Linked DNA regions of Homo sapiens: region 2 is linked to region 1. The links come from fine-mapping of genetic effects on plasma protein levels. A gene starts in region 1. The other region holds a variant in brackets. All regions are shown on one strand. Distances are between the middles of the regions. Region 1 holds the start of IL1RAP (interleukin 1 receptor accessory protein). Region 2 overlaps IL1RAP (interleukin 1 receptor accessory protein).

Region 1 (9,555 bases):
TTTCTACGTCCTCTGATTTCCTCAAGCCACATTCTGCTTTCCTAACCGTGCCAGGTAAGATGATGCTAACTGCTTACCTATAGGAGCAAACATATGCTCCAAAATGCCAAAAGCAAGGAGCAAAATGTTCCTTCTACATCTGCGTTTGCAAGCCTGTGTGCTTGCTACAAAGAAGAGAAATCTAATGGCCTATGAGAAGTCTCAGCAGATGAACAGCCCCACTGCCTGGGCCAGAAACAGATCCCTTCATCTTCCAACATGAGCCTCCAGCCATCACTTTCCACAAGGAGGAGTGAAACTCCAGACAAGTAATCAGCACCACCAGGAAGCAGTGGTCTCTTTCTGCAAATGCCACCTTTGCACATTATTCTGTCTACTCTACTCAGTACCCACAAAATTGTCAAAAAAAAAAGTTGAATAATGCCATGGACACTCATAACATTTGTTGTTCAATCTTCTTCCCAGCCTTTGAACTAGCATGAGGATGGCAGAGGGAAGAAACCACTCACAACAGGAAGAAAAGAGTGATATAATTCTGTACTTTATGTCTTCTTAGTTAGTACCCTTTCTCTTAGGAATCAAAGGTGTATTACATCCAACACAGGAGAGTAGGAAGGTTGTCTTAGAGACCATTGCTTTAAATACCCTCTTATGACAGTTGGCTCCACTAAACTCTACAGAACTGTGCTTAAGGATTGTTCTCTTTGCAAGAAAATACCTGCTTTTCAACAAAAAGGATATCCTGAAATAACCAGACAAATAAGGTCAACTTTATAACTGAAGTAAATTGTTAAATATCTCATTGGCGAGGAAACAGAGTGTGATGGGAAATGCCCTAAACTAGACATGAAAAGGTGTGAACTGTATTCCCAGAGTTGAAACATACTAACACATGACCTCTAGCAACTTTTCATTTCTCTGAGTCTCATTCCAGTTATGTTCTAAATAAATTGAGACTAGCTAAGAAGAGATATCATTTAATGAGCACCTATTCACTACATGTACTTGACATTATTCTATTGAATTTATTCGTTATACAGATTTTTAAAGTAAGCATTTTTTTTTTCCATTTTAGAACTGGATAAAACAGAAACTTCAAATGATTAAATAAACTGCTCAATATCACCCAACTACTCAGGCATGAGAGCTGGAATTTGAAATCAAGTAGGTCTGACCACAAAACCTGGGCTCCTTCCTCTATTAATATTCTTGCCATGTCCTCCCAGGGCTATTGTGAGTAACAAGGAGTATCATATATACAGAATGCACTTTGGAAATTTTAAAGTTCTATACATATATATGGTTTTGGTAACAAGTAATAATCTGTATGAAGATATGGGTATAATTGACCAACCTTTCTTTGAAGAATCAGAACCAAAGGAATTAGCTTTTAATCTCCCTTCCATCCTCATGATCTGACCTTATTTTGAACATTTTCCTTTTCCCCCACAAGGCCCCTGTCTCTCAGGCACACATTCAGTCATATCCCAGCCAGCTCACCACAATGCATGTACATGGAACAAGCTGATAGAAGCAGGTGATCCCATCCTTTACTAATGCTTGGTGCGGGAGGTACTTAAGTGGGCACCACTGGGCTCTTATCTTCCATCAAGATGTATCACACTCTGTTCTCAAGCACTTACCAATACTGCATACAAATGCTATGGCCTGTGAAGGAGGCAGCCAACTACAAATGCTGGACACTCAATTTAAGGACGCATGGCAAAGCCAGTAGATAGTAGTAAATTATTGCATGAAGTTCATCAGAATAAAATCAATTGTCATGAGAAGGGTTAAGGGTGTGGGAGGGAATCCATTTAACTTTAAAATACCAATAATACAGGAAGACTAGTGTGGGCATGTGAATGTCTGTGTGTTCGTGTTTAAATAAGGCAAGTTTGTGTCCAGAAAGGTTTGCATTTAGCAGCATCTCTGTACAATCCAAAAGAAATATATGAGAATTTTGTTTGTTTTCTGATACTAGATGAAAAATGTAAGGTTGCTCGACTGACCTAAGAGAGCAAGGATAGAAGGCTTAGAATAATCTGTAACACAGCTGCAACTTCCAACTTTGTCTTCTTGTCTTTCTGCCTCTCACCCATTTCAAGACCCTCTTTGTCAATAAAGGATGTCTCAGATCAGGGCAGTTCACAGGCCTGAGGTTTGACCTAAAAACTAGTAGGAAATTCATATCACCGAGAAACATCAATTTTACATTTCGAGCTAAGCATCCATGATCCACATCACATATGGACAACATTCAGAAAATTCTTATTATAAAAGAGTTGCTCAAATTCAAAAGAAGAAAGACACCACATTTACAGATTTTTTTAAAATGCCTCTGTAAGATGGTATGAAATCACCTTTCTGAAAACCCACTGTCTGCAAGGTTACTATGTAACAATATTTACAATAGTTGCCATTGGTTTTGAACCAACCAGATGCCAGGCCAGGCACTGTGCTAAACATGCTACTTGAATGATCCCATTTCATCCTTCCAACTACCCAAAGGGCTCATTGTGACCATTATAAATCTCCATTTTTTGGCTGGAAAAAAAAAAAAGGAAGAAAGAAAGAAAAGAAAAACCCAGTATCGGAAAGGTGAGATAACTTGCCCAAGTTCACACTGCTAATACATGGAAGAGCTGGAGTCAAAACTCAAGTCCTCTTTCTCATCCAGTAGCTAAACCAGGGATCTGTACAGCAGAGCAGCAGAATGCTTCGCGTGGCGCCCTGGTTCACAATTTCACAACCAGAAGGTGGAGGGAAGACAGGCTGTGGGCTAGCTCTTAAAGGAAACAGCCGAAGTTTGCTTTTATGTTTGTGATTTTCTCTTTAACTCAGCTTCCTTGCTCCCTCTCAGTATTTAGAAGAGGGAAGGGGCTCTATGGTTCCATGAAGTCAGCTCTTCCCAAGTGAGGGGCACCCTGTGCCCCACAGGGCCACTAGCTCCGCTTCCTCCGGGGCTGGGAAGAAACAGTACCATAGGAGGTCACTGGCGCCCGGGCCTCGCTCCTCTCTCCCCGCGCTCCTCCAGAAGCTGGTCCGACACCCTCTGAAGGGGCATCTTTCTGAGAAAGCAGGTCAGGGGAAGAGGGAGTGAGGCTGCAAGCAGCATTTTCCCAGGCTGTCACAGCTCTGCGCTGAGAGCGACGTGATACCGAGTGGGCGTGCTGGGACACACCGCTTCCTTCTGTCCTCGGCGCTTCCAGCAGCGGTCTGGAGAAACCAAGGAGGAGATGGGGGCGGGGGGTGGTAGCGGGGAGGGGGCGGTGAGGAGGAAAACAAGGGTAGACCCCTCAAAGGGCTGAGGATGGGGGCGGCAACGAGCAGACGTCCCACAACCGCGTTACTTAAATCCCTGCAAAGCAAAGATGGGTCTCTGAACGTTTGGGTTCGAATCCGGGCTCCAGTCCTAACTAGCAGTATGACCTATCCCAGCCGCTGCCTCGTTCTGTGCCTCAGTTTCCTCTTCTGTAAAGTAGGAGGGTTTAACGATAGGATCTCTAAGAATCCGTCTACCCTGAGATTCTGCGGCTTGGTGACTTCTGAGCCCTCACGGCGGCGCGAGACTCACCTTTCTTGGGAAGCTGAGAGGGCGCAGCAAAAGCAGCCGGGATGGGTGCAGTGTCGCCGGGCACTGCTTCCTTCCGCGCCTCTGGCCAAAGCGGACCCCGGAGACCTGGATCCCGGCAGTCTTCCCCAGTGAGCCTCTTACTTTCCGCCGCACTTTCTTTTCCCCCTTTGGGGCTCCTCCCCCGGAGCGGCGCGATTGGCCACGGCCTCACGGCTCAGGCTCCACCCGCCGCCTTGGCTCGCGATCCACCGGCGCTCTGGGCTTCCAGGAGCTGCGGCCGCGGGGCGGCGTCCTGGACGGTCCCGCCCGCCGCCAGGAGGCGCGGCGCCGGGCCCGCCTGCGGACGGATGCAAGGCTGCGCTCGGCCCCTTCGGCTCCCTGCCACCGCCTGTGCGGGCTTGAGCGCGCGGGGAAAGGAGAGGGTTAGTCCTGCAGCGCAGCTCGGCACGCTGCCAGGCGCTGTGGGAAGCTACGCCCCTCACTACACACCGAGGCGCACACATGCGCTCATTGCAAGATCGTGCTCTCGCAGTTGAGATCGGTGCCACCCTGCCCTTTCTTCCTGTCTCGACGTATTTAGCAATCATGCTGCAAGGCCTTGAATCAATTCAGACTGCACGATTTTCGCAACCACCCTGTGCCGGCACAGAGCGCGGCAGGATGTAGATGCGATCTCCGCAGTCCTGAGCTCTTGCTGTCTTGAACTGACATTCATATGAGCAAGCAACAGGACATGACAGCAAGACTAAATCTGTATTGTCCACTGGTAATATACCCATTGCCTAGCACAGTGCCTGGCACAAAGTAGGCACTCAATACATGTATGGGGAACGAATAAAAGAACTAATAGGTTACATAGAAGGAAATAATCTCAAAACAAATATTTGCCTTCATTCATTTCCATTTCCCCAAGTTTTTGCAAGAGCCTTCCTTCAGCTGCCCTCTGCCACTGTAGATGGTAGTCTGTAATATATCCCGGGAAGCGTTATAAAGGCTTTCATTAAGTCATCTCTCTTGTTCAGGCACCTTCTGCTGTGTTCCTACTGCTAGTGCCTCATGATTTTTCCTGACTGGCAAGGCCCTTCATGACCTGTCCCCATTTCTGAAACCCCCTAACCAAAGCCACCTACCAGACTGACGAGTCTTCGCACATCTTCTTGCTCATCACATCTTCTTTTCTCCTCCTCCTACCTAACTGAATCCTACTAATTTATTTTCAAGAATCAAGATTCAGAGAAAGCATTTAAGGAAAAGGAGAAAAAAGATGTGAAATAAGAAAAGGGCCCAGGTGAGTGGGAAGGAAATGAAACCAGCAGGTGCCCGTGCTGCTAAAGGTGCACAGCAGTACGAAACTCAGAGGCTGCCCCTGCCCTGGCGGAGCTTCAGTTCCTAAGGTGAAATATCAGTGTAATTGGAGCCATAGAAATGTTCATGATACTTTACTTCTTGACATCACTTATGAAAATTAATTGCTCAAAATTTTTATTTATCTCAGGATACCTGGGACCCAGCACCTGCTCACAACATTGTCACTGAACCAAAGAGAAAATAATCCAAAAGAATTTAAAATGTTACCTGTATGAAGCAACAATAAAACATTTTCTGATTTATTATTCATTCCTTAAATATATTCTGGGCACAGACTTTTATATATATATAGTACACTGAAGCATTTACACAGTGCTTACAAAATAAAAAGGTGCAATCATAAGGACTTTGTGTATATTAATTCAGGTAACCCTCAATACAACCTGGAGGGTGCTATTATTATCTCCAGTTCATAAAGGAGATAAAGGGAATTTAAATAACTTGACCAAGGCTACAGGCCTACAAGTGGAGAATACAAAATGAGACTAGAGACACTCGACGTTCATGCTCTCAGCCGCTACTCAGTCTCATGTACTACCTAGAAGCCAAACAGATGCTAGTAATTCAGAATTGAACCAGATGTATATTCCCGGACATTGAAGGGCTACTCATAGCTTAAGGAAGATAACATTAAGATGAATAATCATATAGACAAATATTCATAGTATATTGTAGTTTGAACACAATATAAATGGTTGGAAATGAAAATGATTAGTTAACCAACGCTGTCTACGCACAGAATAAAATATTTGCATCATAACTATCATATTATGGAAATATGTCTACAAAGAAAAAGGCTTACAAAATAAGGTTGAGTAAAAGTTGTGGAGAGATGAACACCAATTGAAAGGAATGTGAAAAAATGTTGATATGTTAGGATTACAGAAATAGAAACATCTCTTTTTCCTTTTACATTTAAGTGAAATAAACCAAGCACAGAAAGACAAATTTTGCAAATTCTCACTCACACGTGGGAGCTAAAAATTAAACAAAGGAACTGAGATATGAGAGTAGAATGATGGTTACCAGAGGCTGGGAAGAGTAGCAGAGGCAAGGGAGTTGTGGGGAAGGGAGGATGGTTAACGGTTGCAAAAATATAATTAGCTGGAATGTATAAGACCCAGCACTTGATAGCACAACAGAGTGACTACAGTCAACAATAATTAATTATGCATTTTAAAATAAGTAAGAGTGAAATTGGAATGTTCCTCAAAGAAGTGACAAATGGTCAAGGTGATGACACCCTGTTGTCATTACCCTGATGTGATTATTACACATTGTATGCATGTATCAAAACATCACATGTCACCCATACATATATACACCTATTATGTACCCGTAATAATTAAAAATGAAAAAATGTTATGCTAACAATTGAGAAAAATATTTTAAAGCTATACCCATTAAATATCCATCACATACTAAACATTTGATGAATAATAGTTGCCTAAATGAATAAATGAAGCTACAAATTCATTGATGTCAGTGACTAATACTGCTGGATGTATAGAAGATGCACAATAAAATATTTTGCAATTGATTGATGTATTTGGAAAGGTATTATTATTCTCTTCTTCTCCCAGCTTTTACCCTCCACCTTTTTTTTAGGTTATCTTTAATTATCTTGCTGTAGCTGTAAGACGCATCAGGAGTTTGCTAGTCTCTTGAACCCAATCCATTCAGACATTTATCTCTACCACTCCACAGTCAGCATCTGTAATGATCTTCACTTTGCCAAATGTGGTGATCAATTCTCTGTCTTCATTGTACATGTATCAGCAGCATTAGACACAGATAATCTGTTGCTCTTTCACACTCTCTCGTACTTGACTCTTTGTTTTTCATGTATTTCATCTGCTGTTCCTTATCAGATTCTTATTGAATCCTCTACCTCTTCATGATCTCTGAAGGTTCCAGTGTCCTAGAGCTCAATCCTTGAAGTGGTTATATTCTCTACCTAGGGGAACTCAGACAGACACATGGCCTTCTAAAATATCAATATGATAATAACTTGCAAATCTAAATCTAAAGCCCAAACCAGACTTTGTATACCATATTACCTCCTTCATATCTCCTTCTTGGATGTTTTAAATACATCTCAAACTTTACATGTTCAAATTCAAACTTTATTTCTGCCCCACACCAAACCAGAGCTTTGTAAGCAACACTGTCTTTTACCCAGTTGCTCAGGTCAAAAAGTTGGAGTTATCACTCTCTCTCATTGCCTGTACACATTATATCCACAAACCTTCTGCTTCCTCTACATTCAAAACACATCTCAAATCCAACCACGCTATTCCTCTTCTCCATCACAACCACCATGGTTCAAGTCATTGCCATCTCTCCCCTCACTGGTGTCCCTGCTTAAACTCTTACCCAAAGAGTCTATTGCCCTTACTTCAGAGACCCTTATAAATGAAAATAGAATAAATACAGGCTAGTGATTGAGGTCAAGGAATCTGAAGCCCGACTACCTGGGATCAAGTTTACATAATGTGGTCAAGTTACTTAATTTCTTTTTTTCACAGTTTTATTCTCTGAAAAATATGAATAACAATGACAATAATATACATTATAGTGCTGTTTTTAAATTAAATGAGATTATATAAGTAAAACACTTGGCATGGGGATTGGCATGTAGAAATGCAATATAAATATTCATTATTCTTTTACAAGAAATATGTCATTCTCTGCTTTCAAATAGTGATTTCTTATCATGATCAGATAAATTTCCATAGTCATTTATGGCCTAAAAGTCCTTGTGTGGCCCTACATGATCCAGCACTGAGTTGCTTCTTTCAATCTCCCATAGCATGCTCCTTGCTGTCGACCAAACACACTAACATGTTCCCATACTAGGGTGTTTGCACCTGCTGTTCCCCCTTGCTGGACCGCTGTTCCCCTGTTGCTTGTTCTCTCCTCTTACTCACATCTTCATTAATGTCCCTGCTCCACTATAACCTTCCCAGCAAAGCTTTTCCTGACAACCAAGTCAAATAATACATTACGTAACATTTTAATTAATTTACTTATTGAATGCTGTTTTCACTAGAATGCTAACTCCGGGAGGGTAATATAATGTTTCCCTGGCAAACAGACAATATTTTGCACGTAGTACTCATTGAATAAACATTTGTTGAGTTACAATTCAGTCCAAAACTCTCATGGTTAAACTTTGATACAAAGATATTAAGTGACTTATATATCGCCCTCTTCCTTTGATTTACATTTTTTTGGGAGATCAGAATCATTGGAAGACAAAAACTAAAACAACAAATTATATATATATATATGTGTGTGTGTGTGTGTGTGTCTATATATATACGTATATATGTTTAATATATATACATATATATACGTATATATATATACACGTATATATATGTGTATATATTTGGCTGGGTACAGAGTAAAGAAAGCACATTATAGAGACATTTTATTTTGAGCTTTTGGAAGGAAGGTGAAGGGCAGGAGCCAAGAGAAAAGAAAAAAAAAGTGAAAAAAGGAAAAAGTAATTATATCACCTTCCAAACCCTTTTACGTTTCCACCTTTTATACCCCTCAGCTCTTTTCTCCTCCATCCCCAGCTGACCCTTGTACCTGTTCTCTGGGTGTTCACATTTCCCCTCGCAGCACTTAGTTATGCCTGCCCCCACTTCCTCTGTGGTGCCCTGGGTTTCCAAGTCAGGTATCCCTCTTCCTTTTTATTGCATCTGTTTCTGACAAAAGCCTCTCTTCCTTCAGTTTGATTCGGCTAGGTGTAGGGAAATAAGCAGATTAAACAGTAATGATAAGGTGTTGATTACTAAGAGCTCAACTCTACCTTGTTGAAGAGATATGCTAATTTGTTCAAACACATATACCCAACTATTGAAATTCAAGTCGTTTGGAAGAGGAAATTGGAAATTTGACTGTGCAGTGGGAGGCTTCACTCATTTCTTTTCTTTTCCTTTTTTGTTTTTTTTTAGACTGAGTCTCGCTCTGTCGCCCAGGCTAGAGTGCAGTGGTGTGATCTTGGCTCACTGCAACCTGCGCTTCCCAGGTTCAAGTGATTCTCCTCCCTCAGCCTCCAGAGTACCTGGGACTACAGGTGCCCACCACCACTCCCAGCTAATTTTTCTATTTTTAGTAGAGATGAGGTTTCACCATGTTGGCCAGGCTGGTCTCGAATTCCTGACATCAGGTGATCCACCCACCTCGGCCTCTCAAAGTGCTGGGATTACAGGCGTGAGCCACCGCGCCTAGCCAGCTTCACTCATTTCTATCCTTCAGACTCACTACCTGGGTTACATGCAGTCCTGAAAGACAAGAGGGGAAAGGGGAACTTCTGGAACCCTTCCAATCTCTATTTATCTGCATAGGGTTGAAGCTGACTCCCATCACAGGGCACTACTCCCACGTGGAGGTGTCAAAGAGAAACACTGCCTGACGTTAGTTAAAGCCATGAAAACAGATTTTATTTAGTAACTATTGATAGCAGAGGAAACAGCTGAGCTTCATTCCTATTTGTGTAGAGGTTGTTTGGCCTTTTAAATGGAGAATGAGGGAGGTAGCAGAGCAGGATCTCAGTAGAGCCTGAGAAGTGAAATATTACTAAGGGTTTGATCAGT
Region 2 (8,000 bases), 110 kb before region 1:
AATACACAGGTGTGACCAAACAGTGATTTTATATCAGCTTTCAGCACAGATCATCTAGTCTAGAGGATCCACCTGTCACTTCACATTCCTGACACTGTCCTTATTACACCATTTAGAGCAGGGGCTTCTGTAAAAGGGGAGCTACTCTGGTCGCTCTGGGAGGCAAACTTGTGCTTCACTCCTACATTACACCTTGCTTTGATTGTTCTGATCCTATTCATTTGACAATAAGTTATTAATTTATGTCACCTTCCATAATTATTCCCCAGGATACATCCCTCAGAAGATGATCCCCACAAAAAGCTCCATACTTAAGAAATCTGGAGTCAAATACATATGAAAACATCCTGCCACTATAATCCAACTTCCCGCAGATATTCCCATCAAATGTTCACATATTAAATACTTGAATGGGTCCTAACTAAAGTAACTTGATTGATTTTTTAAAATCCAGACATAAATGATACTTATTTGATGATAAAAGCCTTTGTCAAATAACACCTATGAAAATCTTAAGGAAATAATGAGTTCATATTTATTGAGCATTTCATATATAGGTATATATGCCAATAACTGTGCTGAGCACTTTAAAACAACCTTATAAGGTAGTGGTATTATTGTGTCTACTTTAAATATAAGGAAATTAAGGCTCAGAGAGATTTACTTTTCACAGAGTTAGGATGTGCAGAAACCAGAATTTCAACACAGGTGCTCTGATTCTAGAGTACAATAATGCATTGCAGGACAATACTGATTCTTAGTAGTGTTCCCGAGAACTCAATTTGGGAAACTGCCTTACATCATGTACTTCAGTCTTTCCTTTTCACACTGGCTTCTGAGGAGCAGAAGCAATGAATTACCCTGAACTGATTCACTAGTACTTCATACGCAGCATATACATTTCAGGCCTTTGCTATTTAGTTTTAAAGTTGTAATGAAAGTTTGAGGTGAATCCTGTTTTTCATCAGCTTTAAAAAAGCATTAAGTCTCTGTAAAATGTAACAATTATGTGCTATGTTATTCACTTTTGAAGAAATATTACACACTCTATAGACTAGGAGCCAGGAGGATTCTGAATGACCTGATTTCATGATTTCATGTGTGATAACTCATCATTACTTTTCTCAAGACCATTGAAAACATCCTTGAAGGGATTTTCTGGGATTCTGTGTTAGGTGAGAGACACAAAGAAAGTTTTAGACACAGTCTGATTTAGGAGCAGCACTTCTGACAAGAAGGCTTTATAATTTCCATTTATTGTAGAATAATATAGTACTATCAACATAGAAATCATGTTTATACCATTTAAAATCATAATTTAAATGATTTTCATTTTAGCAATTGTGGCTGCTGGTATATTATAAACCTGCTTAAATATTGATACATAGTGTTTAAAATAATATTATAATTATGCATTTTTGGAAAATAAACATTCAATACCTTAATTAGTTGCATACAATTGGATGGCTGCTATTAATAATGTTTTACAACTACAGATAATGCTTCTAATAATATTAAAAGGTATATAATTCCCTTTCTGTTATTTGTTCAGGAAAAATTCCGAAAGTCTTAGGTCAGATGATGCAATCTTTTTTATGACTCTTGAAGTCTACCATGAATGATTTTTAAAAGGGTCTTAATAATTCACCAACAATATGTGGCTCTACCAGTTTTTTCTATCTTTGGTAGCTTTGAATATTTTCTTTGTTTTTAATTTTTCATAATTGTACAGACACAAAATTGTGTCTCACTGTACTCACGTCGATTTTTTTAGCTACATTTGGGCATTACGGTACTAACAATATCAGAAACAATATTTTGAGTATCTTACATAGATGAAAACTTTCATATTTTTCATTTAAGTTTGATTCATTACTATGGGTTAGATGCCGTCGGGCTAGGTGCTGGAGCTCTCTTGTTCTCAATCTCTCCTTTTGTCCTTATTCACCACAATGTTAATTTGGAGCTGAGAGATTCATCACTGACCGCATCTATTACCTTTCTGCTTCACCTTGGCTGCTTTGGCAACTTCGCCTTTGGCACTTCTAGCATGACAGACATAGCTGCGCTTGAGATCCTCAGAGGTAACTTTCTTGATGCTCAAAATCTGAGTTCTTGTTTCATCTTCTGTTCTACTATGACTTATACTAGAAATAGAGAGAAGAAAATCAAAGCATTTGAGAGTGACTCAAGAGCTATGGACTGTGTAGGAATCAGACAAGTAAGCAACCACAGACCCCCACTACAGGTGAGGGCGAGGAAGGTTGATAAGCTGAGCCACCTATAATGCAGTGATTACAAAGTATTAATGGTAAGATTCTAACACTATACTATACCATCTACGCTACACACTATCCCATTGTCTAGACCAAATCCCAATACTGGCTTCTTTTTATAGATCTCTCTTCAAAACAAAATGTCTCTTTTGCTTAAACTTCTGAGCCAGGATGCTGTATCAGTTTAGAGAGAAGCTTCTGGGGCCAGGTCCTTTTGGGTTTTTATCCAGGATTTGTCAATTCCTGGCTATATACTTTGGGTGAGATAACTAATCTTTCCAGGTCTCAGGTTCCTCTTTTGGAAAAGAGGGAAGTCATAATGCCCACACAGTGCATTACATGCATTAATTTATTCAGGAATTCTGAGGACTGAATATGCTAAGGCATGAATATTAGAATAATGCTTAATAAATATTCATGTAGGTATTACTGTTATCCCATAGGAATAGCTGATGCATTTCAGTGATTCCCAAAGCATGGATTCTGAACACAGCTAGAATACTGTGGTCAGAAATCTGAAATCTCATGGTTAAATCCTAACATATAAAAAGAGAAAGCTGTTATGAACACGTAAACTTTGTAAAAATAAATATATCCAACTCTCAGTGAATCAGAGATCAAGTGTTTTGGGTCCAAGATCAGAATTTAAAATCCCTTTGAACTCCTTTACTTATCGCAGAGAAAAATCTCTCTGCTACAGCTGACTGCCATCTAGGTTCTCTTTTTAACTAGGCTTACTGTCAGGTATGAGAATTTGGTTAAGGGCTCTGATTGGTTTTGCTTAAGCTTAA[C/T]GCCACTGCTATCCTATGAACACTGAGTACGTTTCAACAGCAGCAAGGTGGAACAACATGACTTTCCTTGTTATTTATTCATTATTATTATAAGGATGGGCTACAAAGTGTTAAAAATTCCTAAAAAAGATCAATAATTCTCCCTGTGAGCCTCCAGCTACATTACTTTGTCATATAGCTGACCAGCTGCAAATTTTTAATTGGTGCAGTGAGCCAACTGCTGTTCGGTAATGGTATGCTTCATTTGCAGTGGAACCTTCTGTCTTCAAGGACGCACACTTTCCACTTTGCCAACGCTTTAAAAAATCAGGTTTATTTAGGAATAAAATGTTATTTTATTTTAAAAGTGAGTTATATTACTACCCATCTACCTTTAAAATAAAATTTAAATTACACAAACGTATTTAGTTAATATTAAAAATTACTAATTATAAATGTAACTATAGGTTATATGAGATAAGAAAGAGGAGGAGAGAGAAAATGCATGCTCACTGCAATGCAAAAAAAAACAAAACACAATTACCTAAGGCACAAATACATAGGGCCAGACACTAGGATTGAGAAAAGGAAAAAACACAACTACACTGTAGGTTTCCACGTACCCACAACCCTTGATTGTGACCTTTTTATTCATGTAAGATATGTATTCTCTCTACTTCCATGTGGGTATCATAAATGTGTGAATCTTGCTGGGCTTAAGACAATAGGGTGCATGTCCTCTGGACAATCTGATGAAGATGCTCAGCCTCAGAACATTCTAATTCAGCTCTCCACTGGTCATCAGGCAGCATCTATTCCTTGCATTGCTAGCCCAGTAACCCTGGTTTGGGATGCAATCACCAAAGATTTGAAAATCTTGCCGATTTTTGTTAGTGATAGGGAAAAATGAGAATTTTTATTTTCATTGACTAGAACACACATCAGAGATCATTAAGTTGAGAAACAAAGGTTAATCACTCCCTTGCTGGCCCCCATGATACCTTTCGTTAATGGTGACATCAATAGTGATGTCATCAGGTTTTTTTCCATCAATGGTCCACCAAACCTCATTGCGAGAATCCATCAGAAAACTAAAATAGACCGTACAGGGAATGAGTAGCTCCTCTCCTGAAAAAAAAAACCAAAAAAACAAAAAAAACAAAAAACAAAACAAAACAAAACAAAACAAAACAAAAAACAAAGACAAAGTTAGCCCATTAGTGTTTATCCTTCACATGGCTATATTGGTTCTACTCTCTGGCTAATCAGAAGCTACGAGTTATGTGTACCTGAAACCCTGCTTATGAGTAATTCTCTAGTCGACTCCCATAAGGTAATGCACCATACTTCATTCCAAAACAAACAAGCGAAACCAAATAAAGAAGGCCATCAACTTTGTATAAAATTACCAGAGTGACCATTTTTAATGTAATCTAAATAAATTCTAAAATGATGATATTTGTTTAAAAAGTCTCTGACAAGGCTAGGCATAGTGGCTCACACCTGTAATCCCAGCACTTTGGGAGGCCGAGGCAGGTGGATCACTTGAGGTGAGGAGTTCAAGACCAGCCTGGCCAACATGGTGAAACCCCGTCTCTACTAAAAATACAAAAATTAGCCGGGCATGGTGGCACCGCCTGTAATCCCAGCTACTTGGGGGGCTGAGGTAGGAGAATTGCTTGAACTCAGGAGGTGGAGGTTGCAGTGAGCCAAGACTGTGCCACTGCACTCCAGCCTGGGCAACAGAGTGAGACTCCATCTCCAAAAAAAAAAAAAAAAAAAAAAAGGTCTCTGACAATATTCTTTTTAGCCCTAGACCTCCAGAGACTGCTCTTCTCCTTTGTTATTTTCCTCAAGAAGGGTGACTGAGGACAGGTTCTCCATATCTTCAGTCCTTGGCCAGGAAAGATGGGGAAATACCATCACAGAGAGATCTGGCTGAGGAGGCCCACCTTGAAATGCTCCACCTATCAGGGTGCATTCAATAAATTTTAAGATAACTTAAAAATAGAAAACTCTATGCTATCCCTCTGAGATGGAACATGAGGTTAGGGAGATCCCTAGGCAGAAAACAGTAGTAACAGCAGCAGTAGCAACATACTTACTAAGAACTTTGTACAAGTTATTATGCTAAATATTTATATTTATTAATGGTCTTATTTAATCTTACAAAAGCACCATAAGGTATTTTTTAAAATCTATGTTTCCCAAATGTAAAAGGTGAAGCTTAAGGATGCTAAATGATATTCCTAAGTTAAATCAGTAATAAGTGAAGGGCCAGGATTTGACCTAGACTGACCTTCCATCCCAGTTTGCCCAGAACAGTTCTGTTTTATGCCTGCTTTCCTGGTTACCTATATTAATAGGTAGTGGCTATGTTTACTCACAGAAAGTGTCCTGGTTTAGATGATAAATTATATCGTCACCCTAATTTGAACTTAGGCTTACCTGACTGCGTGGCCATACTCTATCTACCCTCCCATTGCAACGTCCTTAAGTCTTTTCCCTCCAGTTTTCCCTATCTGTATGTCACTAAGAAAGATAAAGGGAACACGGATTCAACAATCCTTCTGTCAGCATAGTTTGACAGGTAGACAAATATATTTATGTTATTAATAAGGGTTTACCCTGACAGCAGGAAGAGTATTCATATGACTATATAAAGCCATACCTAATTCTAGGAAATTCAGCCTCTTACCATGTTCTCTGTGTTTCACAAAGCAAGTCATATTTTCAAACTTATCTTGATTTTTTTTGGCATTGTTCTCCATCTATGTTGATCACTATTATCTTTTTTAGAGCAAAATCAAATTTCTCTGTCAACATACATAACATACAAGATCAATTGTATCTTTATTATTGTTTGTTGCTATAAATTTATTCATACCAGGAAAAATGTCATATTTAAAATTCTCAAAATAGTTTTGGCACAGGTCAAATCTCATTTTGTTAAGTCCCTGAACTCTTTTAATTGATTTATTTTTTTCATCAGCCTCTTCCCCAGTCACCCTAGCCCCCTCGCTCCAGAATGCTTTGCTGCCCGCCCTGATGCCACAGCCACTTTTACTCCTACTCATGTTAATTCTAGATAAACATTTAATGTTACAGCCTTTCTAGCCAATTGTGCTCTGCAGAAACCATGCAGCTTTTCTGCATGAAGACTTAGCATCCCTACCCCAAAGAGGACTCCATACAATTTTTCTGATGCTTATTGGCAAGAGGAACTAAATAGAAATAATAAGAAGGATGCACAAAATGCACCCTAAGATTGCCTATAATGGTCAGTGTTTTAAGGTCTATAAAGCTTTATGCCTCCGGTGCTCACCCAAACACTGGATGGCGAAGAGGTCCACATCTATGTTCCACATCCAGGTTAAACTTATTGGCAAACCAATGGTGCTTGTGCACAACCCAGTTCAAGTCGCCAGCTGCAAAAATGCACCGCGAGCACACGAGGACCCCGCTGCAGTGTGGGTAGGGAGCACCCTCGGAAACATCACCCTCAAGTTACTGCCACTTGACCCGCCTGGCAACTGCGTGCATGTCCGACAAGTTGTACTTATGGCTTAAGGAAAGTGAGCTGAAGACTTCAGGGACCCTTTAGATAGGGCCCAGAGATACGCATCAGGGCTGTATGTGTCTTGCACCCACTCCATAAACTTTTTAATTTTTTTCATTCTCTGATACATATCCTACATACTCCCCACTGACCACAAAACAGGCACTGCCTGAAACAAGAGGTGTGTCAAGTGGAGGATGCATTTTGACAGTTCCTGTGTTTGTCAGCTTTCCATGAACAACTACATACCTCTTTTTCCACCTTTTTTTTTTATTGAATGGCATCCTCTCCGTTGCTTTCACCCATTAACAACTGACTATTATCTTTAGCACATTTTAAACAGATGCTCTTTTATACCTCTGTGAAAGCTGTCAGAGTCAAAATGGAGTCACTCGTGTCACACTCCAAAGAAAAACAGTTGGGAGGTCATATAAAAAGGGCCCTCACACACACATGCCTATTATAAAAACTAGTACAAAGACTCTGAGCACCACTATCTTGCACAAAGGCCAGCGCGATTCTTAAACAAATAATATTTCTGTGAGGAGGTCTGACCACCAAATGCCAGTCAAGCCTGGACGGATGTTACCCTGTTATTGGTTCTTATAACCAAGGATAATTATTTCAGAACAACTTTATGTAATCTTCCTCACTTTGCCTTTCAAAACTGTTATGTTCCTATGCTTTCTGGGTATGGCTATGGTTCCCGCATGGGATGCCATAGCACTCATATTCCTGGATTGCTATCTGCAATTCATTCCTGAATAAATCCTTTTCTTTTTGGAGAGCTATTGTCTTTGTTGTTATTTAGGTTAACACCTCTCACTGGGTTTGGACTGGATGTATTGTAAGTGATACAACATAGAAAATGTTAAAATTTTCTATAGTTTCCTGTTCACTTAACTGTGGGAGGCTTTGAGTCAAAAGAGTAACATGTTATCCCGTATTTGGTCAGTTATCAATGATTTTTGGCTATAATGAAAAATTATGGAAACTAAAAGAAGAACCGAAGAGCCACAGTAAGCATTCAATAGTGTTCTGCGTCAATGTCTACTAGTTTTATCAGTTGTTAGCTATTATATTCACAGTCTTGCCTTCAAGATCCACCACTGACCTTTCATAATGGAGCAGGAGCTTGAAGGATGTCTAAATCTTGTGCCCATGTTGCAGCCTTGGCAAACCAAAGCCCTGTGCAAGCTAAAGTTTGCATCAAACAGAAATCACTCATCAGCAGAGGAAGACGGCTAGCAGAGGGAGAAGGGAGCAGATACCGAGAGTGAAGCAAAAAATTCTAGAGTTGCCCATGGGATCAGGGAAGTAACTGATCTCCACAGCTGCTTTGGTTTCTGACATTTCAGTTTCAATTCATGTGTTTCTCTACAACAGTCGTCTATT

Evidence for each region. PIP is the chance, under the fine-mapping model, that this variant and not a neighbour inherited with it causes the effect. Sun 2018 read protein levels with aptamers (SomaScan).
Region 2: its variant is fine-mapped to the plasma level of the IL1RAP protein (Sun 2018, PIP 0.95).

Annotation. Positions count from the first base shown.
Region 1 is chr3:190,508,242-190,517,796 of GRCh38, reverse strand. IL1RAP (interleukin 1 receptor accessory protein) reads right to left here and starts at 3,712. Exons shown (of 12, transcript NM_002182.4): 1 at 3,578-3,712. RefSeq lists enhancers at 2,522-3,021, 3,022-3,523, 4,276-4,365 and a silencer at 3,776-4,125.
Region 2 is chr3:190,623,497-190,631,496 of GRCh38, reverse strand. IL1RAP (interleukin 1 receptor accessory protein) reads right to left here. Exons shown (of 12, transcript NM_002182.4): 8 at 4,048-4,174; 9 at 1,999-2,147. It also overlaps the pseudogene GCNT1P3. Among named protein-coding and RNA genes, the nearest start is that of LINC02013, 72 kb to the left of the region's middle. The variant C/T (reference allele first, on the strand shown) is at 3,068.